Linked DNA regions of Homo sapiens: region 2 is linked to region 1. The links come from fine-mapping of genetic effects on gene expression. Tissue or cell type: whole blood. Region 1 holds a variant in brackets; the other region holds the start of a gene. All regions are shown on one strand. Distances are between the middles of the regions.

Region 1 (2,838 bases):
CAGAGGAGGTGATCCCATTTCACAGATGAGGCCCTCCCACACCTAGATAACAGACTCTGGAGCCAGACTGCCCAAGTTCTAATTCGACCTCTTTCTAGCTGTGTGACCTCGGGCAAACTACTGAGTTCTGTGATTCACAAATATTCCTCTTGCTCCAGGCTCCCATTCTTCCCCTTCTTCAGCTCCCTGGACAGGCTTTCAGCTGATGTTTAGCAGACCTTTGAGACCCGTAAATGACGCTTCCTCAGGGTCTTGACCCCTAGACAGCTCCTTGAATGTGGCTCTCAAGGCTACATTCTACGTAACTTCTCTGTGTCCCATTTCCTCAAGTGCAAAATGAGGTTAATACTAGTATGTACCTTGCAGGATTGTTGAGGACCGAGTTAGAATAGACTGCTTAGAACAATCCCTGGCATAAAGTCAGTACTATACAAGCAAGAGTTACCATTTTATTATTATTTTGGCTCTGTGGACTCAGGATTCTCAAGTTTAGAGGAAAAGAGCTAACAGGTACCAAGTGGCCTCTGTGTGCTGAGGGTCTTACAGATGGTATCTTAATGAAAAACAAACCAAATCCTCATGAGAAGGGATTGCCATGGCATCTCTTCCACAGATGAGGAGATGAAGGCTTCAGGTAGTTAAAGTTTCTTTCTTTCTTTCTTTTCTTTTTTGTTTTTGAGGCAGAGTCTTGCTCTGTTGCCCAGGCTGGAATGCAGTGGCCCGATCTTGGCTCACTGCAACCTCTGCCTCCCAAATAGCTGGGACAACAGATGTGCGCCACTATGCCTGGCTAATTTTTGTATTTTTAGTAGATGGGGTTTCACCACGTTGGTCAGGCTGGTCCCGAACTCCTCACCTCAGGTGATCCGCCCGCCTCAGCCTTCCAAAGTGCTAGGATTACAGGTGTGAGCCACCATGCCGAGCCAGGTATCTAAAGTTTCTTACCCAAGGTCTCCGCCAATAAGGGGAAGATCCAGGAATTGAACTCAGATTCATTTGCTTCTAAAGTCATGCCTTTTCTAAGACACAGTGCTATTTCTTTGATGTGAGGATCAGGGTTTGGGATTTGGAATTTGGAATTCAAGGATGTGAGGTCCGAGAGTGCTCATGCTTTGCTTGTTCGTATTATCACAGCTGAAAGTGGTGTTAGTGTGAGTAACTTGTTTTCAGAGTGGTCCCAGTGTGTGACAGGGTGTTGAAACCTCACAGATTCAAGGCTCTGGCCTCACGGTCTAGTTTGGGGGTTACTGGGGGTGTGGCTTGGGAGTACTGGAGGACAGCAAGAGTCACCAAATTAATGACTCATCTGGGGCCAGGAAGTCCAAGGCCACCTGGAGATGAATTATCTGATTAAGAAGCTGTGAGCAGGTGAATGGATGAAGGCAGAAGTTTTGTCATGTATTGCCCCATGTTTAAAGAGCTACCCCTGGGGCTAGGGCTCATGGGGGACTGCGCCTTTCTCCGGTAGCACCCCAGCCCTTTATCAGAGTCTGCAGGGAGCTCAGAGCCTAGCTGGGGGGACGTGAGCACTGGGGGCTTCACAAGGAAGCAGATTCTGAGATGGAGATTAATGTGCAGGGA[A/G]CTCTGGAGATAAGAACCTGTGGAAGGGAGAGGAGGGAGTCAGGTTGGGCCAAGACCTGCCCTCTGGGTTACTCTGGAGCTGGAATGGCCCTTCAGCTTTTTCCCAAGTTGTGGCCAGAGGGCTCGGCTTTTATACTCTGACACTGATGGGTCAGGGATAAGGGTGGGCCCAGGAAGTTGGTGTAACCTTGGGCCAGGGAGCTTTCTTCCGCTGAAGCCATTCTCCTATGGGAGGTGACAGCTGAGGCCTGTGTGCTAGCACTCCGAGCAACTGGTGATAAGTCCCACATTGAAGGGGATCTGAGTGGCACGTTGTAGTGTTCACCACAGGCACCGACCCAAACTGGAGAGAGCAGAGCATCAAAGAAGGTTTCAGTGTGAGACAATGCCTGGGCTGAGGTTAGAAGAATGAGTAGGGGTTACACAGGCCACAAAAAGTCAGGAGGGGAGACAGAGAGAAAAGGGAGTTTCTGGCAGGAAGACCAGTATGTACTAAAACCCAGAGGTAAAGATGGCACAGGAGAGGTGGATAGGTCTGCTGGGCTAAAGAATTTGAGTCGTTGTATTAAGGGGATGGGGAGCCCATAAAGGATTTTAGGACAATATATGACATAATTAAGATTTGCATTGTGGAATAATCCTGGCACTGCCACTTACTTACTAGCTGTGTTGCTAACAACTTACTTAACCTCTCTGTGCCTTGATCGCCTCATCTATGAAATGGGAATAATAATAGTGCCTGCCTCTTAGGGTTGTTGCAAGAATGAAGTGAGATTGTATAGGTCAGGCTGGCATGTGAAAATGCCCTTAGTGAAGATTCGTTACTGTTATTCACTGTAACAGACTGGACTGGGGCTAGAGGAGACCACTGGAAGGCAGAGTTTGAAGCCTACTGCTGGGTACTGCAGAGAAAATGAAGGCCACAGCTAAGGCAGAAGCAGCACATGAGGCCAGTTGAAAAGCTCTCAAGAGGGAAAACTCACAAGACTTAGCTATTGCTTAGATGAAAGGGGTGATGAAAAGATGGCATTCACAATGACCCCCGGGTTTCCGGTTTGGGTGGCTGCCTCTGGGAATACACAAATAGATTTGGGGCAGGGAGATTTGGTGAGTTCATTGTAGATGAGTTGAGATTGAGATTCTTGAGGAACTTCCAGCAGGAGATGCAGATATTCCGAGCTGACCTCTGAGGTCTGAATGGAAAAAAGAAGTGCCAGTGTGGTCAAGGGAGCCCTGGGCCTGGATGAGGTCACCAGG
Region 2 (2,665 bases), 42 kb before region 1:
ACAGAGTGAGACCCTAGCTCAAAAAAAAAAAAAAAATTCAAACACTGCAGATAAAATGAAAGCCTTGATTGCCCCCTGCAGCCTCAAACACTTCCACAGAGGTAGCCCTATTATCGGTTTGGTGTAGCATGGTTACTATGTAGCATAATTACATAGTTAAGCCAGTGCATTCATTTCTATTACTGCATAACAAATTACTGTAAATTTAGCAGCCCAAAACACCAATTTATTTTCTCACATATTCCATGAGTCCAGGTACTGGTTGGCTGAGTCCTCAGCTCAGGGTCTTATCAGGCTGAAATCAAGGTGTTGGCTGGGTTAGCGATCTCATCTGAGGCTCCGTGTGTGTCCTTTCCCAAGTTCAGTGGTTGTTGCCAGAATTCAGTTACTTGCATTTGTAGGATTAAGGTGCCCACTTTCTTGTTGGCTGTCACCCAGGAGCCTTTCTCAGCTCCTAGAGTCCACCTGCCATTTCCTGCCATATGGCAGTTTGCTCCTTCAAGGTGAACAGGACAGCTGTGCTGTGGCTTCAAATCTCTTAGATTCTGTCTCTGACCTCTAGCCCTGATTTAAAGGGCTAGAGTGATAAGATGAAGCCCACCAGGATAAATCACCTCTTTTTGACTGCCTTAAAGTTAATTGATTAGGGACTTTAATTACATCCTTGTCATATAAGCTAACCTAATTACAGGAGTGATGCTCTATCATATTCACAGTCGTGTTTTCTTTTAAGGGGAGAAATGTATACAGGATGTGTACACCGTAGGGTACAAATCTTGGGATACATCTTAGAATTGGGCCTCTCACAGCCAGCCATAAGAACTGTCCAAGTAAGCAATAGAGGTATTAATATGGCCTTTTATAATCAGTATAGATTGTTTGAAAATGTGAGATGTCCATGGTTGGCCTCTAATAACATTCGATTCACGGCAAACATATATTCAAGTAGGAGACATGGTGATATAGGCAGAAAAATCAAATGATGCTAAACAAAAGAAAACTGTCTTTGATTTTGAAAGAATTCAACTTGCTGTATATCTTTTGCCTAAGCCTTCAGTCAGCCTTTGCTCTACATCTACCAATGTGATCACTGCTTTTCCTTCTGACTTCTTTAGGTGGGTCAAGAGTTTGCTTTTCTCCCCATTCATGAGTGTAAAGTTTAATGCCTAACTGAACTTGCTTCCTTCTTTGACTCTTGTGTAGACTCGGGCACATGGGGCAACTTTTTTTGTGTTTTGCTCTACCAGGTCGTCCCTATTCCGTGGGACTAGTGTCTAGCCCCATTTCTTCAGCAGTGGAGCCTAGGATGTAGAGCTGCATACTACCATTAGGAGGCGCACCCTCAGGCCTCGGCTCCGCGTTCTTTATGTCTCTGGACCGCTCTCTCTCGCAGCTCATCTCTATGGTTTCCGTTGGGTGTGTGGTTTTTTTGTTTTTTTTTTTTTGGGGTCCGGAATAGGCGGAGCTTCCGGTTCCGGTGGGGGCCGTCCCTGGCGGCGGAGATGGCGGCGACAGCGGCGGAGGCTGTGGCCTCTGGCTCTGGAGAGCCCCGGGAGGAGGCTGGAGCCCTCGGCCCCGCCTGGGATGAATCCCAGTTGCGCAGTTATAGCTTCCCGACTAGGCCCATTCCGCGTCTGAGTCAGAGCGACCCCCGGGCAGAGGAGCTTATTGAGAATGAGGTGGGGGGCGGGGCCGCGTCTAAAGGGAGAGGAGGAAGGTACCCGGTTGAGAGGTCAGAGGTGAATGGTGAAAGAGATGGGAGACTGGCAGGGCTCTAGACTAGGGCCTATGGGAAGATGGAGAGAAAGGCGAGGAGATACGGAACTTAGGGGTTCGTGCTGATTAACAGGAGAAATTATTCTGAAGTTGAGAAGTAGTTGGGATCATGGAGGCCAACCCACCGGCTCCTTGGCATTACTTCATTTGGTGTTTTTCACCTGTTGTTTTCATTTAGGAGCCTGTGGTGCTGACCGACACAAATCTTGTGTATCCTGCCCTGAAATGGGACCTTGAATACCTGCAAGAGAATATTGGCAATGGAGACTTCTCTGTGTACAGTGCCAGCACCCACAAGTTCTTGTACTATGATGAGAAGAAGATGGCCAATTTCCAGAACTTTAAGCCGAGGTCCAACAGGGAAGAAATGAAATTTCATGAGTTCGTTGAGAAACTGCAGGATATACAGCAGCGAGGAGGGGAAGAGAGGTAAATTCCGAAAGCTTAATTTTCTGTTGGATTTAGGACACTCATTTTTCTTTCCTATACTTGTTTGAAGGTGTGGCAGAATTGGGTCAATTAGAGATTGGCCTCTCCCATCTCTGGATTCCAGTTGAAGGAGTAGTCTGGTCTTCCAGCCTTTAAGGGGTTTGAGTTCTTAGTGGTTCTTGGTGCTACAGCCAGCTAGTTCTGTAGCTTGAGGGATGAGGGAATGATTAAACTTGAGCTATGAATCTCTGGGTTCCCATCTTCTTCCTCATAAAGAGTTAGTTGCCTAGAAGGGTCAGGCAGGTGAATGGAAGGAGTAATATCGTCTGTGTGAAATCAGTGATGAGGCTGAAGGCATAAGCCTTGTTCAAAGTGAGAAGCCAAGGCCGGCGGGGGTGGCTCATGCCTGTAATCCCAGCACTTTGGGAGGCCGAGGTGGGAGGATTGCTTGAGTCCAGGA

What was found. PIP is the estimated chance that this variant, and not a neighbour inherited with it, causes the effect.
Region 2: HIF1AN starts here. The variant in region 1 is fine-mapped to the expression of HIF1AN in whole blood (TOPMed, PIP above 0.99).

Annotation. Positions count from the first base shown.
Region 1 is chr10:100,576,794-100,579,631 of GRCh38, forward strand. No RefSeq gene overlaps it. Among named protein-coding and RNA genes, the nearest start is that of HIF1AN, 42 kb to the left of the region's middle. The variant A/G (reference allele first, on the strand shown) is at 1,582.
Region 2 is chr10:100,534,457-100,537,121 of GRCh38, forward strand. HIF1AN (hypoxia inducible factor 1 subunit alpha inhibitor) reads left to right here and starts at 1,487. Exons shown (of 8, transcript NM_017902.3): 1 at 1,487-1,679; 2 at 1,955-2,205. The coding sequence starts at 1,503. RefSeq lists enhancers at 1,247-1,336, 1,407-1,466.